Homo sapiens: one gene and its partners. The protein of the gene in region 1 interacts with the protein of each later gene in a pairwise test. Each region holds a gene or a part of one and is shown on either strand. Other genes may lie near its edges.

Region 1 (8,577 bases):
GCGTGAGCCCCGGTGCCCAGCCCAGCCTTTAAGATTTGATTGGGCAGGATGACAGTACCATACTTGAGTTCATTGGTTCAAGCCTGCAGTTACAGGCAAGCCAGGTAGTTGCCTCTCTACTCTGGGTCTCCTGGATTTACCTCTCAAAACAAACTGGCCAGCCAGCCGCCTTGCACTTTGTTTTGTTATTCACGTTTGTGCTCAGAAATTTCCAAACATTGTCCTGTTAAAACAGTGATGGATAACAGTTCCGGAGAACTCTCTTTCCTTACACACCCACACGCCCACACACACAGCTGTGCCTCTGAAAACACTGCTGAGTTCTCTCTCAGCCCACTCAGTTAAATATCTTTATTAATTCTCCTCCTCACCCAGTTCCTAGATCAGGAGTTAGAATGCCTGGGTTCAAGTTTTAGCTCAATACTAATTATTTAGTTGTGTGACTTTGGATAAATCACTGACCCCTGGTGTCCTGAGGATCAGTGGGCAAAACAAATGTGAAGTGTAAATAGTGAGTTGAGAGACTCCATCCTCTCCTGTCTCCAATCAATGGTTTGTACTACTCAGGTCCTGCTGTTTCTTACTCCAGTTTAGTCCTAGAACCATTTGCTTGCCTAGGGAGAAAAAGCATACTTGGCCCGGCACGGTGGCTGACGCCCAACACTTTGGAAGGGGGAGGCAGGCAGATCACTTGAGCCCAGGAGTTCAAGCCTGAGGCTGGGAGTGATAGCTCACAACTATAATCCTAGAGCTTTGGGAGGCCAAGGTGGGTGGATCACTTGAGGTCAGGAATTCGAGACCAGCCTGGCCAACATGGTGAAAACCCGTCTCTACTAAAAAAAACACAAAAATTATATGGGCATGGTAGTGCATGCCTGTAATCCCAGCTACTCTGAAGGCTGAGGCAGGAGAATCACTTGAACCCGGGAGGCAGAGGTGGCAGTGAGCCCAGATCGTGCCATTACACTCCAGCCTGGGTGACACAGCGAGAGACCCTGTCTCAAAAAAAAAAAAAAAAAAAAAACGGGCAAGATAGTGGTTACCCTTCAGCAGAGTAGTAACTGACTGTGGGGTGGGGGATGGGCAAAAGGCGAGGCTTTGGCAAGTTCAGAATATTCTATTTGTTGATCTGTGCATTGGGCACAGACACGAGTGTGTTCAGTTTATGAAAATTCATCTGGCCGGGTGCAGTGGCTTACGCCTGTAATCCTAGCACTTTGGGACGCTGAGGTGGGTGGATTGCTTTGAGCTCAGGAGTTTGAGACCAGCCTGGGCAATGTGGCAAAACCCCATCTCTACAAAAAATATAAAAATGGGCCAGGCCTGGTGGCACGCACCTATAGTCCCAGCTATTTGGGAGGCTGAGGCTGGAGGATCGCTTGAGCCAGGAAGTAGAGGTTGCAGTGAGCCAGGATTGTGCTGTTGCACTCTATCCTGGGCAACAGAGTGAGACCCTGTCTCAAAAAATAAAATAAAAAAATTCATCAAGCAGTACACTTATATTTGTACTTTTTCTGTATATTACACTTCAATAAAAAGAAAGCAGGCTGGATGCAGTAGTTCACGCCTGTAATACCAGCACTTTGGGAGGCTGAGGTGGGCGGATTGCGTGAGGTCAGGAGTTCGAGACCAGCCTGGCTAACATGGTGAAACCCTGTCTCTACTAAAAATACAAAAATTAGCAGGGTGTGCTGGTGGACGCCTGTAATCTCACCTACTCAGGAGGCTGAGGCAGGAGAATTGCTTGAACCCAGGAGGTGGAGGTCACAGTGAGCCGAGATCACGCCATTGCACTCCAGCCTGGGAAACAGAGCAAGACCTCCACTCAAAAAAAAAAAAAAAAAAAAAAAAAAAAAAAAGTATTCCAGACTGGTTACAATACTGAAACTAAAGGAGTGATGAAGTCAACCTCCAGTCAGCTGTATTGATGCAAAGGAGAAAATATCCTAGCTGAGATAAAGATTCAAATACCAAGGATATCGTCTCTGATTCTTACCAAGGGCAGCCTGAAGTTCCTATTGCATTAATGCAGAAATTAGTTGAGGTCAGGGATTGTTTTTAAAATCCTAGAAGGAGCCGGGCATGGTGGCTCATGCCTGTAATGCCAACACTTTGGCAGGCTGAGGCGGGTGGATTGCCTGAGGTCAGGAGTTTGAGACCAGCCTGGCCAACACAGTGAAACCCCATCTCTACTAAAAATACGAAAAATTAGCTAGGCATGGTGGCAGACACCTGTAATCCCAGCTACTAGGGAGGCTGAGGCAGGAGAATTGCTTGAACCTGGGAAGTGGAGGTTGCAGTGAGCTGAGATCGTGCCATTGCACTCCAGCCTGGGCAACAAGAGCGAAACTCCATCTCAAACAAAAACAAAAATCCTAGAAGGCTGGGCACGGTGGCTCACACCTGTAATCCCAGCACTTTGGGAGGCTGAGGCAGGAAGATCGCCTGAGCCCAGTGTAACTGCCCAATGGGATCACCTTGCCTGCTGCTTACACAGCGGATATATCAAGACAGGGGAATTGCAATGGCAAAAGAGTAATTCACACAGAGCCGTCTGTGCAGGAGAGTGGAGTTTTATTATTATTATTATTATTATTATTTTGATTCAGCGTCTCGCTGTTTCGCCAGGCTGGAGTGCAGTGATGCGATCTTGGCTCACTGCAACCTCCACCTCCCGGGTTCAAGCGCTTCTCCTGCCTCAGACTCCCGAGTAGCTGGGACGACAGGTACGCGCCACCATGCCCAGCTAATTTTTGTATTTTTACTAGAGACGGGGTTTCACCATGTTGGCCAGGATGGTCTCGATCTCTTAACCTCATGATCCGCCTGCCTCAGCCTCCCAAAGTGCTGGGATTACAGGCGTGAGTCACCATGCCCGGCCTGGAGCTTTATTATTACTGAAATCAGTCTCCCTGGAGCATTAAGGGATCAGAGTTTTTAAAGATAATTTGGTGGGTAGGGGCTTAGGAAGTGGAGAGTGCTGATTGGTCAGGTTTGAGATTGGATCATAGGGAGTTGAAATGAGTTTTTCTTGCTGTCTTCTGTTCCTGGTTGGGATGGCAGACCTATTTGGGCCAGATTACCAGTCTGGATGGTATCAGCTGATGCACTGGGTGCAGGGTCTGCAAAATATCTCAAGCACTGATCTTAGGTTTTACAATAGTGATGTTATCCCCAGGAGCAGTTTGGGGAGGTTTAGACTCTTGGAGCCCATGGCTGCATGACCCCTAAATTGTAATTTCTAATCTTGTAGCTTAATCTGTTAGTCCTGCAAAGGCAGACTGGACCCCAGGGAAGAAGGGGGTCTTTTCGGGAAAGGGCTATTATCAATTTTGTTTCAGAGTCAAACCATGAACTGAATTCCTTCCCAAAGTTAGTTCGGCCTATGCCCAGGAATGAACAAGGACAGCTTAAGGGTTAGAAACAAGATAGAGTCAGTTAGGTCTGATTTCTTTCACTGTCATAAAATCATCAGTTATAATTTTGCAAAGGCAGTTTACCAGGAGTTTGAGACCAGCCTGGGCAACATAGTAAGACCCCTATCTCTACCAAAAAAAAAAAAAAAAAAATTAGCCAGGTGCAGTGGTGTGCACCTGTAGTCCCACCTACTCAGGAGGCTGAGGCGGGAGGATTGCTTGAGCCCAGGACTTTGAAGCTGCAGTGAGCTGTGATCACGCCACTGCACTCCAGCCTGGGCAACAAAGTGAGACCCTGTGTTAAAACAACAACAACAACAACAACAACTTTGGGAGGCCGAGGTGGGCGGATCACGAGGTCAGGAGATTGAGACCATCCTGGCTAACATGGTGAAAGCCCGTCTCTACTAAAAATACAAAAAAATAAAAAAAATAAAAATAAAAATTAGCCGGGCGCGGTGGCGGGTGCCTGTAGTCCCAGCTACTTGGGAGCCTGAGGCAGGAGAATGGCGTGAACCTGGGAGGGGGAGCTTGCAGTGAGCCGAGATCGCGCCACTGCACTCCAGCCTGGGTGACAGAGTGAGACTCCGTCTCAAAAAAAGAAAAACAAAAAAGCCAGGCGCGCGGTGGCTCACGCCTGCCTGTAATCCCAGCACTTTGGAAGACCGAGGCGGGCGGATCACAAGGTCAGGAGTTCGAGACCAGCCTGACCAACATGGTGAAACCCCGTCTCTACTAAAAATACAAAAATTAGCCGGGCGTGGTGGCTCGCACCTGTAATCCCAGCTACCCAGGAGGCTGAGGCAGGAGAATCGCTTGACCCCGGGAGGTGGAGGTTGCAGTGAGCCGAGATCGCGCCACTGCACTCCAGCCTGGGCGACACAGAGACTCCGTCTCAAAAAAAAAAATAAAAAAAAAATCATAGGAGCATCACAACTCACAGCACCTTCCTGTTGTCTGAAGGCCCCTCCTTTGGGTCCCTCAGGACTGGCTCCAGGGCTTCAGCCTTGGAACTAGTTGTGGACTTTGGGTCCCTTTGGAATATTTATCTTTGGCTTGGAATAATGCAACAACGTACCAGACCCAGCCTTGCCTTCTCTATGCCCCATTCCTCCCCAAATGACTCCAAGACTGTACCCCTAATCCTGAACCCTTTGCTGCACTTGCCCTAGTGAAAATCAAAGGTCTGCAAAGGCCGCGTCATTCCTGAATGATGTTCGGAGTCTGATGTCGTTTCTATGGGGGATTAAAATTAGCGACACTGGAGATGAATTACAGGGTGCAGCCAGTAAGGAGGGAGAGAGAGGGAGGCAGGTGCGATTCCTTCCACCTAAGCATCCTGGCCTGGCAGGCAACCTTTCCAGGGTCTTTCAGGCTGCAAGCGACAAATAGTTGAGGATTGTGGGTTTCTCACGCGTAGGTGGCAGCGGCAAGTTAACCCCAGGAGAGGTGCCAGTCAGCAGATAATTTGCAAACGAACGTATTCTCCTCCTCCTCCGAGGATCTGAGCCTCACGAAATACTCTTTTCTTCCTTTTTCTCCCTCCCGCAGTCGAGTTGCCTTCCGTCCAGCTAGGGTCCCCTCCCCGCCCGGGTCCCCTCCCCCTCCCGGTCCCCTCCCCCGCCCGGGCTCCTCTCTGTCTCCCCCTCCCGGACTGCGTCCTCGCTCCGCCGGGCCCTCCTCGCCGCCAGCTTGTGAATGAGACGCTCAGTTTCTCAATGGAGCCGCGGGGGGCTCGGGCGGCCGCGGGGCGGCCGCAGCGTTGGCCGTGAGTCAGGAGGGGGGCGCGTTTCCCTCGCTCCCTCTCCACTCCCTCCCTTTCGCTGCGGCCGCCCGCGAGGAGCCTGGCTGAGGCAGCCGCGCAGGTCGCAGGGCCAGCGTCCGCGAGGACGGCCCGGCTGGGCGGCCCCGAGCTCTGTGGCGCTGTGGAGGAGCGGGAGCGCGGCCGAGGAAGCGGGGCGCCGAGGGGGTCGGCGGCCTTCGGGAAATTTCCGCCGACCCTTCGCTCCCGGCTCTAAAAGTTCCTGATTTCCTATTTCCTTTTAAATCCCGAGTGGCTGTTAGCTCTTCGCCTGCACTTTTTCTTCCCCAGGAGATAAGGGGGAGTGTGAGGAACGGAGCGAATAATATAAAAAAGGATTTCCTCCCGGAAGAGAGCGGCAGTTCGGAGAGATTTTTCTTAAGGAAGCAGAAGCGGCGTTTGCGGCCGCTGCAGGCGCCGGGCCCTGCCGGCCACACTATGCGCGAGCCGGCCCCGGGCTGCTGAGGCGCGGGGACGCGGAAGCGGAGGCCGAGCGCGCCGGGCTCCCGCGCTCGCGAGCGAGTTTTGTCCGCCCGGCGGCGGTGGCGGGGGGATGGAGCCCGCGACCGCGCCCCGGCCCGACATGGCGCCGGAGCTGACCCCGGAGGAGGAGCAGGTAAGCGGGCCCGAGGCCGCCGCGTTGGGTGTGTCCGGGCCCCCGAGGCCTACGCCGGCCTCTGCCTCCCGAGTGCCGGCTCTTTGCAGCCACGGGGCCGCAGCCCCCCGCTCCCGTGCCCGGCTCGCGGGCCTCCCTCACCGGCGACCGCGCCCCAGGCCGCCACCCCCTCGTCGGGGGACCCACGGGACCCTACTCCCGTTCCCGCCGCTTCTTTCGCCGAGGCTTACCAGCCTCAGACGGTGCCCTCCGCACCCCACCCCCTATTCCAGGGGCAAAGTTCCTTGGATCCAGGGGCCTTCTTCCCGAGATTTGCAGAACCGCTGCTTGCCCCCGGCCCTTCCACTCCCTTGTAAATGTTTTCCGTGAGGGTTTGTGGCTTTTGAAGGGCAGGAAAAGCCCCAGTTTGGGGGGTGCTTCCTGTGGGGATTATCTCCCTTCCCGAGGAGAGGGCTGAGAGTATTGGATGCATAGATGCCCTAGATTTTCAGAGGAGCCTCTTAGGTTTCTCAGGCCCACTTGGGCAGGTTATGGAAGATCCAGCCCTTCTCGTGTTCCTAAAGTCCCTGGCCTTGACCCCCCTATTCAGCTATCCCAGACGGGGCGCATCTCCTCACCCGCGCTTCCCTACCCTCGTCTCATCTGACTGTCTCCATCTTTCTGAAGCTTACATTGAGCTCTATTGTTCCTTAAAAGCCTATGACCTTTAGTTTTCAGAAGGAAGTGGTTTGCTGTCTCATTTTGGGGGCCCTTGTAACTTTCCCTCCCGCACATTCCAGCTGCGGAGACAGGGACCACTCCTGAGGAAGATGGGAAGGTCTGCTAGCTTAGACTGGGAACCCTACGGGCTTTTCGCTGTCTCTTCCTTGGCACTGCCCATACCCCGCCATAGCTATGCTCGATTATAGTCATAGTCTGATTCCATGTTATAAATAAAAAAAATAAAAATAAACATGAAAAAAGAAAAAGGCAAACCATGCTGGCAACCCATTTCAAGCTCTACAGCTCTTGTTTCCAAGGACCACATTTGCTAGCACAGCCTCTAGTGTGAAGACAGTCCAGTTTTACAAACTATTATTGGCTAATGGGCTTGTTGACCTGATTTTTTAAAGTCCTTGTCTTTTCTCCTTATTTGTGGAGATGACATTTTTCTATTTGGCCTCAGGCCACGGTTTTGTCTTTTGACACCTGGTGATGAAATCTGTATGGGAAAAAAATTTAAAAAGAATTCTGCTTTGTACAAGCAGTGGTAATGAATGTCCTGGTAACTGCAGTTGGATGTTAATAAAATGCTAGTCAGACCCTAGTGCAAGCAGGTGGCCAAGGAGCCCATTCTGCCAGAATTGGGAAGTACTTCAGTACTAAGATAGGATGTGTTGGCTGATTTTAAAGGGACAAAATCTCTTTCTTTCATCCTTTTCCTTGGGTCAGTCAGATTTCTGTTTTTAAGACTTAAAGCCATCAGTATTCTATGCAAATAGCATCCGTTGCAAATTTGAAAACTAAAACCAGGAAAAGTAAATATTAAAGTATTGATAGTATTGACATGGTATTGGCTTTACTTTGTACATAGTGCATACACATATATACAGATGTGTTTAACTAGTAAAAACCTTATCTTTTACCCTGAATTGAATGTGATGGGCATTAACAAGGACTAGGATGGAAACGGCAAAATGTTTATTAAAGTCAAGAGATTGTGTGTGTGTGTGTTTTTAAAATCTTATCTCTTTTTTCTACAAAATATTATTTTTTTACAAGCATTTCAAAATATTGAAACAAAAGCAGTATAGTTCTAATTATGGTAATGCCTAATGTTACCATATTTTAGTTTAATATCACATAAGAGTACTCTCTTTTTTTTTGAGATGGAGTTTTGATTTTTTGTTTGTTTGTTTGTTTTTTTGAGACAGAGCCTCGCCCTGTCATCTAGGCTGGAGTGCAGTGGCCTGATCTTGGCTCACTGCAACCTCTGCCTCCAGGGTTCAAACGATTCTCCTGCCTCAGCCTCCCGAGCAGCTGGGATTACAGGCGCCTGCCACCATGCCCAGCTAATTTTTGTATTTTTAGTAGACGCGGGGTTTCACCATGTTGGCCAGGCTGGTCTTGAACTCCTGACCTCATGATCTGCCCGCCTCGTCCTCCAAAAGTGCTGGGATTACAGTCGTGAGTTACTGCGCCTGGCCGGAGTTTGGGTTTTGTTGCCCAGACTGGAGTACAATGGCGTGATCTCGGCTCACTGCAACCTCCATCTGCCGGGTTCAAGCGATTCTCCTGCCTCAGCCTCCTGAGTATCTGGGATTACAGGTACCCACCATGCCCAGCTAATTTTTGTATTTTTAGTAGAGATGGGGTTTCACCGTGTTGGCCAGGCTAGTCTCATCATACTCCTGGCCTCAGGTGATCCACCCGCCTTGGCCTCCCAAAGTGTTGGGATCACAGGTGTGAGCCACTGCACACAGCCAGAAGTACCCTTTTGTTTTTTAACTGAGTCTTGCTCTGTTGCCAGGCTGAAGTGTAGCGTTGTGATCTCGGCTCACTGCAAACTCTGCCTCCCTGATTCAAGCGATTCTCCTGCCTCAGCCTCCCAAGTAGCTGTGACTTCAGGCGTGCGTGCCACCATGCCCAGCTAAGTTTTGTATTTTTACTAGAGACGGGGTTTCACCATGTTGGAGGATGGTCTCGATTTCTTGACCTCGTGATCCACCCGCCTTGGCCTCCCAAAATGCTGGGATTACAGGCCT
Region 2 (7,955 bases), on another chromosome or scaffold:
ATGAAAATACAATAGGTTTTTGTATGTTGATCTTTCATCCTGCAACCTTGCTGAACTAATGTATGAGTTCTGATAGTTTTAGTGGACTCCTTAGGATTTTCTATGTACAGAATCATGTCATGTGAATAGAGTTCATTTTCCTTCCTTTCAAATCTGGATGATTTTAATTTCCTTTTCTTGCCTGGTTGCCCTGGCTAGCCTCCGGGACAATGTTGAACAGAAGTGGCAAGAACAGGCATCCTTGTTTTGTTCCTGATCTTAGGGGGAAGCATTCAGCGTTTTGCCATGTAAGCATGCTGTTAGTTGTGGGGTTTTGTAGATGCCTTATGTTAGGTTGAGGGGCTTCCTTTATACTCCTTAGTCGTTGAGTATTTTAGTTTACTTTTAACTATATACAGATATATTACTTTCCAGTTAAAGTAGTCAGTTACTCTGTTAAGACAAAAATATTGGGTCAGCATTTTAGACATAGTATATAGTCCCATACTGCATCTTTGGGTCAGCGATGGACCACATATGACAGTGGTCCCGTGAGATTATAATCCTCTATTTTTGCTGTATTTTTCCTATGTTTAGATACACAAACATTTACCATTGTTAGAATTGCCTGTAGTATTCAGTACTGTAACATGCTGTATAGGTCGGTAGTCTAGGAACAATAGGCTATACCACAGAGCCTAGGTGTACAGGAGGCGCCACCATCCAGGTGTGTGTAAGTGCACTCTAGAATGTTCACACAATAGCAAAATCGCCTAATGATGGCGTTTTTCAGAGTGCACCCTCGTTGTTAAAGCTTAGTTTTAGTGTTACTTTGCTTACCCCTTCCCCGGTTGATCAGCACGTAGGTTGCTTGGATTTTCTTCATGCTCACAGGTGTGTGTTAGTCAACATTCAGCCAGTGTTTTTGGAGCAGCTATGGGTGCCTGGTGGTTTCTCAGGGCTGAGGATACAGCAGTGGCAAAACTCAGCCATCTCTGCCTTCTTGGAGTTTCTAGTTGGAGGGAGAGAGTAGTGTGAAGCCTCTGTCCAGAGGGTGGGCCTGCTGGTGGGAAGGCCTGTCACTGTGGTGACCGTGTGAGGTGACGGCTGGGAGGTGGCTTGAGAGCTGGTGAGTGGGTCTGTCTGCTCTGGTTGCCATGGCTGAGGCTCAGCCCACTTCCCCAGGGCCTGCCCTCCACGGATGACTGGCGACGGACGGTCTCCTTACGGCCGCATTCTGTCCCTGCCCGCCTGTGTTCTTGCCGTTGGCTCAGAACTCCCTCTCCCAGCCTCTCCTGGTGTCGTCACACCCCAGGCTCCCTGGACCCTTCTGTGACCTGCCTGTCATCCCAGCCCGCTCTCCTTGGGCTGACCCTGGGCTGCAGGGAACAGGATGGGTGTCGGCCGGTCTGTCCCACACAGCTAGCTGACGAGGTGGTTTCTGGGGCAGGAGTGGAGGCAGCACAGACAGTGAGGACGAAGAAGAGGAGGACGAGGAGGAGGAGGAAGACGAGGAGGGCATTGGCTGTGCAGCCCGTGGAGGGGCCACCCCTCTGTCCTACCCCAGCCCTGGCCCTCAGCCTCCAGGTGAATGAATGGGCGGTGTGGTCAGGTGTACACAGGGCTGTCTGCCTGCTACTGAGTTCACCCTCCATCCCGCTCCCCCACCTCTATCCCAGGCCCCAGCTGGACAGCCACCTTTGACCCAGTGCCTACAGATGCCCCGACCAGCCCCCGAGTCTCCGGGGAGGAAGAGCTGCACACTGGGCCTCCAGCCCCACAGGGGCCCCTCAGTGTGCCCCAGGGCCTCCCCACTCAGAGCCTGGCCAGCCCTCCTGCCCGTGACGCCCTGCAGCTCAGGTGAGAACCGGATGGAACGGGCTAAATGGTGCTGGTATCCCGAGGCCAGGAGGTGGCCATGGGGTCCCCGTCCTCTCATAGGCTCGAGTGCTAACCCTAGCTGCCCCCTTGGGCTGCCTCTCTCGCCTACCAGGTCTCAGGACCCCACACCCCCCTCAGCACCTCAGGAAGCCACAGAAGGCAGCAAAGTCACGGAGCCCTCAGGTGAGCCCCGCTTTGCCCTGCCCACCCGCGGCCCTGGGCAGAGAGAGCAGCCTGGCCAGCTCCGAGCTTGCTGGGAGCTGCAGCTGAGATCTCTTATCCCCCACAGCCCCTTGCCAGGCCTTGGTTAGCATCGGGGACCTTCAGGCCACCTTCCACGGGATCCGTTCTGCCCCCAGCTCCTCGGACAGGTGAGCAGCGAGGTGGGGCTGCCTAGTATCGGGAGAAGTCTTTTCTCCTCTTCGCTGAGGTGGGCTCTGGGTTCATCTTGTCCCTGAGCTGCTCCAGGCCTCCTTTGCAGGACCCCCAGGCGCAGCCTCATGTTGTGCCCCAGCCCCTTGCACTCTGTAGGCTGGTTCTTCTCTTAGTAGCCTGGGATGCTTGGGGCCCTTGAGCCCCAGGGTTGGGAAGGGCTCGTTGGAGGGTGTGAAGGATTGGGAGGGTGAGAGCATGCAGAAGACCCTTTGGGGCTGTCTCAGCCGGCCTCGAGTACCTCCTCCACAGGGACAGGAGGCGGGAAGAGGGGTGCTTGTCTTCCTGTCCAGGGCTGTGCTGTCCCTCCACGCTGAGCCAGCTGCGTCCTCGGGAGGCCCCTCCCCGTGGGGCAGGTGGCAGACACACACCCAGTGAGCCGACTTCAGTCGGGTGGGATGTGAGGGTGTCAGCAGGTGACGGTGGGGGCCACGCTGACAGCCGCACCTGCCTCTCACCCACAGTGCAACCAGAGACCCCTCTACCTCTGTCCCAGCCTCCGGGGCCCACCAGCCCCCCCAGACCACAGAAGGGGAGAAGAGCCCAGAGCCCTTGGGGCTTCCCCAAAGCCAGAGGTGAGCACCAGGGCAGCAGGGCGGGGGGGTGGGGGTGGGGCTGGTGGGGCAGGAAGTGACCTCTGCACATCCCCTCTCTCCCCTGACAGTGCCCAGGCCCTCACGCCTCCTCCGATACCCAATGGCTCTGCCCCGGAAGGGCCTGCATCCCCAGGCTCCCAGTGAGTGTGGCTGCAGCCTCGGGCTGGGTAGGTGGGGCTGGGCCTGCTAGACCCTCACACGACATCTCCCTCTGTTTCCAGATAGCTGCCTGGTGCGGCAGCGGCGGCCAAATCTTCCGTCCTCCCGTGGATCTCCCGGGGTGGGGGCAGGGCGGGTCCCACGATGGCCCCCATTGCCCTCATCACCCTGACACCCCCACATTCTCTCCTCTGGACCCCCAGGAGGCTGGTGCCAGGGAGACAGGCCCAACCCACCCCCATTTGCACTGAGAAGAGAAGTTTTGGAGCGTTGCCTCCTAGAATAAAGATACAGAGAGTCAAATAGAGAGAATGGAGAGAGAGAAACATATATTATATATTATATAGAGAGAGGGAGGAGAGCGAGAGAGAGTGAGGACACCGAACTGGGCTGGCGGCTCCAAAGCACAGCCTTCCCTGTTCCGTCCCAGCGGGAGCTGGTGTTAGGGGTCCCAAGGTTGCCACCCACGTGCCCAGCTGTCCCACGCTGCAGCGCAGACGGCCACGCCCACACCCGGCCTTTTAGCTCAGGTCCACCATGGGGGACGGCCCAGCGTGGGTGGGGGTGCCAGAGGGTCCCGAGTGGGGGCCGTGCCTTTGCCCAGACCCTGCACTTTCAACCAGGCCAGTCCGGCTCTGGGGAGCAGGGGCCTCCCCGGCAACAGCCCCAGGGGCCTTGAGGGTCTGAGGTCCCAGCCCTGTTGCCAAGTGACCTTGTCCCCAGCTCCCTCCTCCCAGGCTGGTGTGAGTGTGCGTGCGTTTGTGCCGAGCTTCTATTTCATATTGCAAATATAAATAAAGGAAGGCAGTTTACGATTCTGCTGGTCAGACCTTACGTTCTGGGATGCGGGGTGGGGAGCCTGTATTATCCCTGCACCCCAGAGGCTGGGGGTGCTCCTGACCCAGTCTGCCCCCACACTGTCCTGCCAGAGGGAGCCCTGTGGCTGCAGAGGCCCCAGGCTGGGCCAGGCACTGGCTGTGAGGGCTCCTGCCAGGTCTACCCCACCTGTGGGCAGGGCCTTGGGCAGAGGATAGAAGCCACCGACAGGCTCAAATCCCTGCTCCTGCCCCTGCTTACCCCCAGTAACCAAGCCCAGCATTGAGGCTGGGTACTGGCGCCCAGTAGGTCTGAGTCTTTCAGGTAGAAGGTAGAAGTGTAGGCTGCGTGTGCAGCGAGTGGCACCGGTGAGCGGCGCTGGGAAACCGGAGCGTGTGGACCGGGCCATGAGGACAGCGTCCTCACTGGGGTGGCAGTTGGCTTGGAGGTCACCTGGGGGCTCGCTCAGCTAACAGGAGAGGGTGCTTGTTCCCCGCATTCGTGGTGGTCCCTCCTGGTCACCCATTGAAGCAGTGTTTGTGGTGGAGCCCCTGAGGGCTTGGTGGGGTTGAGCAGAATGAGGAAAGGTTTCATGGAGCAGGGAGGGAGACGGCTAGGGCAGCAAGTGAAGGACAGACTCGCCTTCCCATCCCTCCAGGGGCACTCCTGCCAGCCAGCCCCTCTCCCGCTTCCCATGATGGGGTGGCTGTTGGAATTCTGCACCCCATCTCTTCTGATTGTTGGGGCCCAGGACAAGGGGACAGGCATTTGTGGGCCTAACCTCCCCAGGCAGATAGGAGGAGGAAGCCATGTCCCAGCAGGCTAGGGCAGAGGGACCCCCAGTGCCAACAGTGCTTTATCAGCGGGCGCCAGGCAGGGCCATCCCCAGGGTGAGGACAACATCTCCCTGGGCCCTGTTATCAGTCACAGAGTCCACAGGACGCTCCTTGGGTTAACGTGTAACCATGAGCCCTCCCCTCCACCCCCTGAAGCCACTCGCTCCCAGATTAGGTCGCTCTGGGGCTATCAGGCCAGCATGGACGCTGGCAAAGCGGGGCAGACCCTGAAGACTCACTGCTCAGCCCAGGTGAGAGCCTTCTGAGCTGTGCCTGGGGCTGGGGGGACAGGGCCCTGGAACCCCAGCAGCCGGCGGGTCTGGGAGCTGCTGTCCTTGAGTTGGTTGGGCCCTGGGAAGCTGGGTTCTGGCAGCCTGGTCCCTGAATGGGTCCAGCCTGTACAGCTGGGGTCCCAGGTGGGGGTGGGACAGGAGCCATGAGATCTGAGTCCCAAGAATGGGGGCTGGGCTGGGTTTCGGCTCAGTAGCTCCCCACTCCCCAAAGCGCCCAGATGTCTGCAGGTGGCTGAGCCCCTTCATCCTCTCCTGCTGCGTGTACTTCTGCCTCTGGATTCCCGAGGACCAGCTGTCCTGGTTCGCTGCCCTGGTCAAGTGCCTGCCCGTCCTCTGCCTGGCTGGGTTCCTGTGGGTCATGTCCCCAAGCGGGGGCTACACCCAGCTCCTCCAGGGAGCCCTTGTGTGCTCGGCTGTGGGGGACGCTTGCCTCATCTGGCCGGCAGCCTTCGTCCCTGGTGAGTGGAAGGTGCTGTGACGCTTTCCAGATGCCCGTGTGAGAGAGGCCCCAGCACTTGGATGGGAGCCTGGGTGCAGAGGGCTCCTGTGAGAGCTCCAGTGGTCAAAGGCACAGTGGGGGGCGCAGCCGTGACCGAGGCAGCTCACGCTCCAGCGAGGGGTGGGGGCAGGCGGTGTTAGGGCAGTAGCTGAGGTGGCGCAGAGGGCAGTGAGGACCTGCTGGAGGTACTGCAGTTTGAAGCAGGGTTGCTGAGGAAGGCCTCACTGAGGAAGTCACATTTGGGCAGAGCTGAAGGGCTGTATGCCTGTGTGGAGGAAGGGCGAGTGTAAAGGCTCCGGGGCAGGGACGTGTCAGGTGCTTGTAGCCCAGCAGGCCAGGGTGGCTGGCGCAGAGTGGCTGGAGAGCTGGAGGCCATGGGGCTTTGGAGGCCAAGGGAAGGTGGGGCCTCCTGGCAGTTCTGAGCAGAGCAAGGATGGACACTGCATGTGGGGAGACCTGCAAGGAGGCTCGGCCAGGGTGGGGCCTGGTGCTCTGGGATGGTCCTTCTCTTAGGCCCTGAGGGGTGACCTCGGGGCCATTCCCAGGATGGGCCTTCCTCACTGGTACCCCACCCCTCTCCCGCCAGGCATGGCCGCCTTTGCCACCGCCCACCTCCTCTACGTCTGGGCCTTCGGCTTCTCTCCCCTGCAGCCCGGCCTGCTGCTGCTCATCATCCTGGCCCCTGGCCCCTACCTCAGCCTTGTGCTCCAGCACCTCGAGCCGGATATGGTCCTGCCGGTGGCAGCCTATGGGCTGATCCTGATGGCCATGCTGTGGCGCGGCCTGGCCCAGGGCGGGAGTGCCGGCTGGGGCGCGCTGCTCTTCACGCTCTCTGATGGCGTGCTGGCCTGGGACACCTTCGCCCAGCCCCTGCCCCATGCCCACCTGGTGATCATGACCACCTACTATGCTGCCCAGCTCCTCATCACACTGTCAGCCCTCAGGAGCCCGGTGCCCAAGACTGACTGACTAGGGAGCTTGAAGGGCCGGTGTTCAGGCCCTCTCCTCCTGCAAGGACCTGGGCCTCCCAGCCCAGCCCAGCCTGAGAAATACCCTCAGCAGCGAAGCTTCCTGACGCCTGTCTGCAGGCGCCGCTGCCGCCGTCGCTTCTGGCTGAAGACGTTTGAGGACGATTTGCGGAATTCCAAGTCCACTACTGGGTTCCAGCTGCCTTCCCCCGGTTCTGACTCCAGATCCCTGGCTCCTCAGCCAGGCCCACATGGAGCCCTCCCAGCCACCAGCCTGCCTCCATGTTCACTGTCGGCCCCACAGCCTGCCCGCCCCCTGCTGCTGCTCTGAATCCGTTTTCCCTGTGGGTGTGGAACCGTAGATGTTGCTGTTACCGTAGGAGAGGCCTCGGGGAGGGTCATGATTGTGATAAACCATCGCGGTTAATGACAGCAGAAGGTTCTTTGTCGCTCCCCATGGACCAGGCCTGGTGCCCAGTGGGACCCTCCATGGCCCTCTGGTGGGGGGATTCGGGGGGATAAAGTGAGGATTGTGCAGAACTGAGCCAAGAGGACTGTTTGGTCTTTGTGTTAGTTTCCTGAGGCTGCTGTCACAAATTACCCCAAGCCAGATGCTTTGAAACAAGATGAATGGACTCTCCTGCAGTTCTGGAGACCCAAAGTCCAAAATCCGGGTGTTTTCCGGCCCATGGTCCCTCTTGAGGCTCCAGGGAAGAATCCGTCCTTGCCCTCTCGGCTTCTGGAGGCTCCCGGGAATCCCTGGCTTCCATCGGCCTGTGGCTGTGTCTCTCCGTCTTCATGTGACTGTCTTCAACTGGCAGCCTCCCTCTGTGTCCGCATCCTTCTAGGGACACAGGTCATTGGATTTAGGGCCCACCCTAAACCCAGGGTGATTCTATCTCAAGATCCTTAAGTATGTCTGCAAAGCCCCTATTTCCAAGTAGTGTCACCTGCAGAGGTATCTGGGGTTAGGACTTGGACATATCTTTCTAGGGGATACAACCCGCTGCAGTCACATGCAGTATCGGGAGAAGGGTGGGAGGCTTGAGGATGAGGGGTCTTGGAGGAGGGAGGGCGGCAAGGGGGTAGGAATCAAATGGGAAGGAGGAACCCAGCTGTGCTCCTTGTCAAGGCTGTGTGACCTCGGCAAGCTGCTATCCCTCAGGTCCTCAGATTCTGCATCTGAAGACTTGACAGGGTCCAAGCTGCTCTCCAAGACCCTATTTGACTTCTGCATCCATGATGTGCTTTCAGTGACTCATAGCAGAGGGGCGACTTCTCCATCCATGGTTAGCATTTAGAGACTCTTACAGCAGAGAGGCGACCTCTCTATCCATGACCTGCATTTAGGGACTCTTAGAGCAGAGGTGACTTCTCCATCCATGACCTGCATTTAGGGACTCTTACGACAGAGAGGGGACTTCTCCATCCATGGCCAGCATTTAGGGACTCTTACAGCAGAGAGGTGACTTCTCCATCCATGACCTGCATTTAGG
Region 3 (7,595 bases), on another chromosome or scaffold:
TTTCCTCCTGGGCCCGACCATCCAGTTTCTTCACCCCCTATTCAGACCTCATCTTGTGCTGGCCACCAGAGTCTCAGATGACAGGGATCCTCAGAGCTCAGACCTCCCCCGTGCTTTCCTTGGGCCCCTCCCGGGCTTCTGTTACCCGCTGGGTGGGCTTGGTGACCCCTGCCCCTGGAGCTCTCCACCTTAAATCAGCCCACCCCAGTCAGAAATCCCTGTGCTACCCCCTCGGTGGCTCATTGCTGCTCACTGGGATCTTTCTCTCTCTAATTGAAAAATTAAAATCTGGTTCTCATCTTTCCCATGCATAACCTCTGTGAAAAATGTCAGATACCTTAGCCCCAGCAGGTTTCCTGCCTGCATTTCCTCTCCGGCCTCTCTCTCCCAGGCATGCAGATTCCATCCCTCTATTCACACACGCATCCAGAGCCTACCCTGTCCTAGCCCCTGGGGATAGAGCAGTGCTCAAAACAAAGTCCCCACCCTGTGGGGGCTTGAGTTCTAGTTGAGGAGACAGACAGACAAGAGACAAGATAAATCATGCATATAGTATGATAGGTGGCTGTGAGCACTATGGAGAAACATTGAGAAAAGAATACAGGGAACCCCTGGGGAGGCGATTCTGCAGTTTCATAGCAGGATCAGGGAAGCCCTCACTGTGAAGGCGACATTTGGGCAAAGTCCTGAAGAAGGTAAGGGAGGGAGCCATGCAGCTACAGGAAGAACAGCACTCCAGGCAGAAGGAACAGCAGGTGCGGAGGCCCTGGGATGCATGCGTGTTCCAGGAACAGCATGGGGCCAGGGTGGTGGAATGGGTGAGTGAGAGGGGGCGTGGCGGGAGGCAAGCTCAGAGGGTTGATATGCAGGCAGCGCGGGCCAATTATCCAGAGCCTTTCAGGTCATCTTAAAGCATTTGGCTTTTACTCTGATGAGATGGGGAGCCATTCCAAGGCTCCGTGCAGAAGAGTGACATGATCTGACCCAGTATTGGGGCTGCAAAGACACTTCAGAGGTCAAGGATGGAAGTAGAGACCAGTTAGGGAGAGAAAGAGATGGTGGAGGCTCAGACCCGGTGATGAGCAGTCGTCAGGGGTGAGAAGTGATTGGATTCTTACATGTTGGAGGTAGAGCCCATAGGATGTGGGTGTGATGGAGGAGGTGAGGTTGGTGACGGGGCTTGCTAACCGGAAGGATGGGGTTATGGGAGGGGCAGGCCTGGGGAGGAAGATGCAATGCAGGCAGCCTGTGCACAGCACTTAGAGCTTTCTCGCCAGCTGTGTGTCGGCGGGTACGTACCTCAGTGCCTTTGCACATGCTGGCCTCTGTGCCTAGGAGGTTTCTCCTGCCCCGTCAGAACTCCAACTGCCTTCTCAAGTGTCCCTTCTGTGAATCTGTCCCTTCACCCCTCATCCCCATCTGTTCCTCTCTCTGCTTTGTGCACATTCGGGACCTCGCACGCATCGCAAAGCCATTACCGTATTGTGCCCCAGAAGGTGCCCCAGAAGTTAGGACTGAGCGCCATCCATCCCTGAAGCCCTGTGTGTACGAGTTCCTAACAGCTCAGTGTCCCCCACACAGTAGGGGCTCAACCAGAGACTGCCTGGGGACCTGGGTGGACTCCTAGCTCTACTGTCTGTTCCCAGGTTCTGCCACGTTGGGTCGCTCGCCTTGCCTGCGTGGACCTCGATGCTTACCTCTGTCAAATGGGCGTGCTCTTTCCCTCCCTGCCTCGGGGTGTCATGGGAGCCCGCTCGCAAGGATCCCGAAAGCTGGGGTTAGCGCGCCCTCTGCTGGACGATGAAAGACTCCGCGCGCTCTGCTCCCCAGTCCCCCAGGTGGCCCGGGGGAGGTGAAGTAAGGCGGGAGGGCGGGGGGACTACAGGAGAGGAGGGGGAGCTGCTGCACCCGAACATTTCCAGCGCACCCTACACACATGTCCTTACTTAATCCCTAGCCCGACTCTGTGGAAGAGCTTAGGTGAGACCCATTTTCCAGAGTTCCTACCTGTTTCCTACTTGCTACTGAATTTCTTACTCGTAGTTACCTTATTTTTTTTTTTTTTTTTTAAGAGGAGAAGCGACTCAGAGAGAAAAGGGGCGAAGAAGGCTGGGCCGTGTAGAGGAAAGAAAAGGCGCGAGAGAAGAAGACTGCCCGGGTGACCGCGAGGCCTCTGAGGAATGGCTGAAGAGCAGATCCATCTACATGGGGCTGGGAGGGGAGGTGCGGTCACCGCTCAGCCGCCGACTCAGCCGAGGGAGACCTTGGCCAGCCCCTGCCACTCCGCAGGCTCGGTTTCCTCGCCTGTGAAATGCGGGCGATGACTCCCCTCCCCGCCGCGACTGCTCATCACCGGGTCCGAGCCCAGCCGCTGACCCCGGGGGAAGCGCCTTGCTCAGCGCCGGGCGGCCCACGAGGCCCTGCAGGACCGCGGCTGCGGAGACCGTTCCCGCCACCCGCCTGGGCTCCAGGGCCAGACGGGCTGAGGTCCCTCTGGGCCTCCGTCTCCTTTCCAGGGAGGGGCACCGGCTAGGTAACACGGCACTCGCCCTTTCCCTTCTCTGAGCCTGTAGTAGATGATGATAATAATGTTTCCGTGGAAGGTCCTGCTTTGTTAATAGTCACAGATTACAAAGTACTTGCCTTTTCCCACTCCCCTTATGTCCCTTCCCTGTACAAAACCTGGGAGGTGGCCTAATACCTATCCCCAATCTGCAGTTGACAAAACTCTAGCCCGGAGCAGAGCCACCTGCCTGAGCTCACCCTGAGAACCAGACCTGGACATGACCTGATAACTCAGCCCTTTCCTGCCCCTCAGCCATCGCTCAGCCAGGGCCCCTGAGCTCCCTCCAGGACCTCCTCTGCGAACTGTCAAGTGCACCTGGACTCTGAGGGCTGGCGATGGTGGGTGTGAGGAAGGAGAAACCCCTGTTGGAAAAAGGGCCTATGAGAAGGACGTCTAGTTAGAGGGGCAGCTGTGAGCACAGGTGTGGGGTTAGGGAACAAGGGCAGCCCTGCTGGCAGGAGGGGAGAAGGTGATGACCGCCAACAGGAAATCCCCAAGCCCAGCAAGTCAGGGAGCCCATTGAAAGCCTTTTATCCTGCATCGGCGATTTAACCCCATGTAAACGCCAAGTGAACATTCTCTTGTAGAGACCGATGGTCCTCATTTTCCTGTAATCCTGTAAAGGAATCTGATTTCTTCCATCAGCCTGTCCCTAGGACTAAAATGCCTCATTAGTGTTATTCTTAGGAAGGCATCTTCCTAGATCAGGCTGCAAGGAAATGGAGGAAGTGACTGTCAGTCACTCACACCCTGCAGGGGCACTAATTCCGAGAGCCTTAGGGGTGGGTGGGGAGCAGTTCATTGAAAGCCCAACTGGGTGGTGCATAGCGTGTGAATGTGAAGGGGATGGAGGAACCCAAGGAGGCCAGGCCTGGAGACAGCACCAAATCTGGGAGGTACATTATTATTCCCATTTTACAGAGGAGGAAACTGAGGTAACCTGATCATGACCACACTGCCCCACAGTAGAGGAGCCAGAATCCAAACCCAGGCAGCCTGCCTTGCCACCAGAGCCACGCTTTTCACCCTCAAGCTGCAGTTAAGAAGTATCACGCCGTGGCTAGGCCCACGGCCTCTGGCTTCACATCCCACTAGCTCTGCCATCTTTAGCTGTGTGACCTTGGGCAAGTTACTTGTCTGTGCCCGAGGGTCCTCTGTAAAGTGGGGATAGTAGTAGCTGCTTCACTGGGTTCCCTTCAATGAGTTAATAGCTGTAACATGTTTAGAATGGTGCCCTGCACATAGTCACCAGCCAGTACATATGGGCCATTATTCCTGAACCCTGGATAGGCACATGTCCTTGAAGAGTGTAGAATTCTTCAGGATTCTGAAATGCCAGCCTGTGGGATCCTGGAATCCTCCAATAGCATTCTAACAGCTCTCAGCTGCAGAACTGTACCCTGTTTTCTAGAGCTGGAAGGTGTGAGGCTGCCTGTCCACCCAGCTCAACCCCACAGTAGGCAAATGAGGTGATGTCAAAGCCTTGGCTGGGGCCCAGCCCCGGTAACCTCCCACTCTCCCTCCCCTGTGTGCTCCCTCGCTCAGATTCACACACACACTCCAGGCCAGCCGGGCCCAGAGGGAAGGTGAGAGGGCAAGGAGTAAAGGTGGCTGGGTGTGGGTCCGTTGAAGCGAGCCGCCTCCAGCCCTGTTGAACTGGTGGGCCCAGGGACTGGAGCGGGATTGAAAGGGATCTTGCTCTCCCTTGAAGCCTTGAGTTGCAGCGATTTCAGTGTCTTCTCTCCCTGTGTAAGCCTGTCTCGGTGTTTAGGCTGAACTACAGCCACCCCCTCTCCCGGGGGTGTGCAGGCCAGGGACTGGCCAGGCAGCCATGGCTGACGAGAAGACCTTCCGGATCGGCTTCATTGTGCTGGGGCTTTTCCTGCTGGCCCTCGGTACGTTCCTCATGAGCCATGATCGGCCCCAGGTCTACGGCACCTTCTATGCCATGGGCAGCGTCATGGTGATCGGGGGCATCATCTGGAGCATGTGCCAGTGCTACCCCAAGGTAGGTGGTAGTGGGGCTGGGTGGGGCCAGGTCAGCTGGGGCCAGGAGGGCTGGACACTGTGCCTGTATGCCATGCCTCACCCCCTATCCTTTAGTTGTCTTTTCATTCTTCTCATTTTGACTCGGTCTTCTCTCTGCTCTCCTGAGCGTCTGTCCCATCCATCCATCCATCCATCCATCCATCCATCCATCCATCCCTTAGCCTAAGGGTTGATCAGAAGGCCCCTGGATCTGGAGCCCTGAGCCGGAAGCTATGGTATAGACACAGCAAACACAACACACCATGTGCTTGAAACAAAAGCTAATGAGCGCTGACCCCCTGCCAGGCACTCCTGCGTTCAGGGTGCAGTTCAGCCCTCATCCTAAGCCTTTTGGTGCTTTCTGTAGTTCCACCTTCTGAGCCTTTCTGAGGTCCAGAAAGAGAGGCTGCACAGCTAACGAGCAAGGTTTGGAGCTCAGATGCGTGTGACTTACACGTCACCCTTCACCTTGGGTCTTCTACCTCTGGGTCCCAGAGCGACTGAGAGCTCCAGGGTAGGTCAGGTCTAACCTTGGTGGCATGCACTGGGCAGTATCCTTTAGAGTCTTCATGTATTCTCAGCCTTATGTGTAATTTAGTGATGGGAAGAGCACTGGTTTGGGAGTCCTGAGTTCTAGTTCAAGTCCTGTTCCAAACTCTCTATGACCTTTGTCTTTCTGAGCCTCATTTTTTTCATCTGCAAATGAGATCCCTGCCCCTATTTTCCACAGAGCTTCACAGGGTCATTATAAAGATCAGAGAAGAGATAAGATATAGGAATATTTTGTAAACTGTAAGGTGTTATTTATAGATGAAGGGCTACCACTGTTACCCATACTGATCCTCCCAACAGCTCTGTGGAATGGAAATGCCAGGAGTTGCGAATCTTCAATGCCTAGAGAGGCTGGGTGACTTCCAAGGTCACACAGCTGGTCAGGTACAGACCCAGGGAGAAAAGGAGGGAAATAGGGACTCTAACTTGGGCTCTGTCTCTTACTGCCTGGGAGACTTTGCTCAAGCCCCTTTCCTCTCTGAGCCTCAGTTTCCTCATTTGTACACTGTGTGAGTTAGGAGGGGGGGGTGGGAAAGGGGGTATATCTGGGGGCCCTGCTGGACCTAATATCTAGGGCTCCAGGTCCAGGCAGTCCTCAGCAACCCCCACACCTCCTCTCCTCCCACCTGGGTGGCTGTGCTCAGGGTTTCAGGGAAGAAGGGGGATGGCTCCCTGGGGCCTGGGCCGGCTCTCCCCAGCCCTGCCCCCTCCACGGGCCAACCCTGGGCTGTCATTCTGTTCAGTGCTGGAGCGGTCTGGGCTGGTTTGTAGTCATTTAGCAGGCAGTTTACAGTCAACTTGCCTCTGTCTGTGCAATTCCTTGAGCAGAGGTCACTGGGAGAAGTCCTTGGGGCCAAAGCCACTCATGTCACCACTGCTATTATAATCCTTCTCCCAGTGAGGAGGCTGGACCCTGGGGGACAGCAGAGGGATGGCAGAGGTGTGGAGAGGAGCATCCTTCCTGCCCCCGCTCTTAAATAGAGCTGGCTCTGGGATGGTTGGTAGGCTGATGGGAGTGACGGTAGAGGGGAGGGGAGGGGAGGAGGGAATATTGCTGGGTATTAATGAGTAACTGTTGATAGATTCATGGGTTCACGTGCTGTGGAGGCAGCGTGGTGGGCTGAAAATGGCACATGTTGTGGCAACCTCCAGGCCCAGATTCAAATCCCTGCTCCTTCATGTCCCACTTCTGTGACCTTGGCAGAAAGAGTCCCTCCCCCTCAGCTCTGAGCCTTGTACGGCTGATTGGGAGAACACAGTGGGATCGTGTGTGTGTGTGTGTGTGTGTGTGTGTGTGTGTGTGTGTGTGTTGGGGGAGACCTGGCATCACACCTGCCATGGAACATATGTGAAGGCATTGTTCTTAGGATTGAGGATTGGTATTTGCGGCACTGGGTGGGCCTCTGCATGAGTGCAGGTGTGTGTGAGTGTGTGTTTCAGAGATGCAGGCTGGTAGAGCCAGCACAAATTGACTCCAATAAGGGAAGGGAGGAAAGCACCTTATAAACCAGGGAGACACTCTAGAGGCGAAGCTCCCTGGATCCTGCTTGGTCTCATTGGTGCCTGGGCCAACGCTGCCTGCAGTGCTCCTGCCTGTCCTCCCCTCAGCCTCCTCCCCGTGGCTCTCTGTGCCAGACCTATGGAAAGTTTTGATAAATGGGGAGATATAAATATAAGGGAATAGAATTAGCTAATTAGGATATAGGGGTGAGGGGTAGCCAATACCAACATGCATTAAGCTGTCCATGTCTTTTAGGGGCTAGAGGTCTAGTGGGAGAGGCTATTTGCTGCCTGATGGGGAGGAAACAGGCTTCACAGAGAAGGTGAGCTGGGCTTTGTAGGTGAGATAAGAGTTCACCAAGCAGAGAAGATGGGGAAAGACATTCCAGGCAGAAGAGTAGCATGATCAAAGCAATGTGGTAAAAGAATAAGGCAAGTGGGCCATTGTGGCTACGAGAGGCAGAGGGGAGGAAGGTAAAGGTAGCGAGGGAGTGGGGCTCAACTCTTCAGGGCCTGGGATGCCATGGTAAGGAATTTGGAGCTTGTCCTTTAGTTAATGGGACACGACCAGCTTTGCAGTTTGAGAAAGACATCCAGAAGAAGGAAGGTCTGGGGGCAGCCATACCAGTGGGGAGGCTTCTTCTCTGGTCTTGGTGAGAGCTGACAGTCATCTGGAATAATGCAGAATTCAAACACAAAGCTGTAGGAACTAAGGTGACATTTACAGTTCACTTCACATAGAGTACCCGTTGTGGCTAGGCATAGCACCAGCACTTCCACCCAGGTTATCTTATTGAATTTCTGAAGTAGACCTGGTCAGATTTGGTGGTCAGCTGGGCCTCAGGCATGAGAGAGGAGAAGGGATCAGGGCAAATCTAGTGGATGGGACAGTTGGAGGTGCTGAGCCCATTAGTGAAGATGGGGCAGGGGAGCTGTGAGCAGGGAAAGG

Evidence for each region. Proteins that work in one complex are often made in the same cells at the same time.
Region 2: the proteins of PTPN9 (region 1) and TMEM86B interact in binary tests that used the Homo sapiens proteins (3 or more experiments, as listed by UniProt).
Region 3: the proteins of PTPN9 (region 1) and BSND interact in binary tests that used the Homo sapiens proteins (3 or more experiments, as listed by UniProt).

What each region holds. Positions count from the first base shown.
Region 1 is NC_000015.10:75,575,970-75,584,546, reverse strand, and holds the start of PTPN9 (tyrosine-protein phosphatase non-receptor type 9), read left to right. Parts: upstream 1-5,231; 5' UTR 5,232-5,770; coding exon 5,771-5,833; intron 5,834-8,577. UniProt on the Homo sapiens protein: Protein-tyrosine phosphatase that could participate in the transfer of hydrophobic ligands or in functions of the Golgi apparatus.
Region 2 is NC_000019.10:55,225,686-55,233,640, reverse strand, and holds TMEM86B (lysoplasmalogenase TMEM86B), read left to right. Parts: upstream 1-4,877; 5' UTR 4,878-4,899; coding exon 4,900-4,950; exon of another isoform or gene 4,951-5,155; coding exon of another isoform or gene 5,156-5,203; coding exon 5,204-5,450; intron 5,451-6,077; coding exon 6,078-6,460; 3' UTR 6,461-7,003; downstream 7,004-7,955. Other genes in the region: PPP6R1 (serine/threonine-protein phosphatase 6 regulatory subunit 1), read left to right, coding at 1,430-1,566, 1,659-1,839, 1,973-2,043, 2,150-2,231, 2,757-2,867, 2,957-3,028, 3,110-3,113. UniProt on the Homo sapiens protein: Catalyzes the hydrolysis of the vinyl ether bond of choline or ethanolamine lysoplasmalogens, forming fatty aldehyde and glycerophosphocholine or glycerophosphoethanolamine, respectively and is specific for the sn-2-deacylated (lyso) form of plasmalogen.
Region 3 is NC_000001.11:54,994,790-55,002,384, forward strand, and holds the start of BSND (barttin), read left to right. Parts: upstream 1-4,143; 5' UTR 4,144-4,397; coding exon 4,398-4,574; intron 4,575-7,595.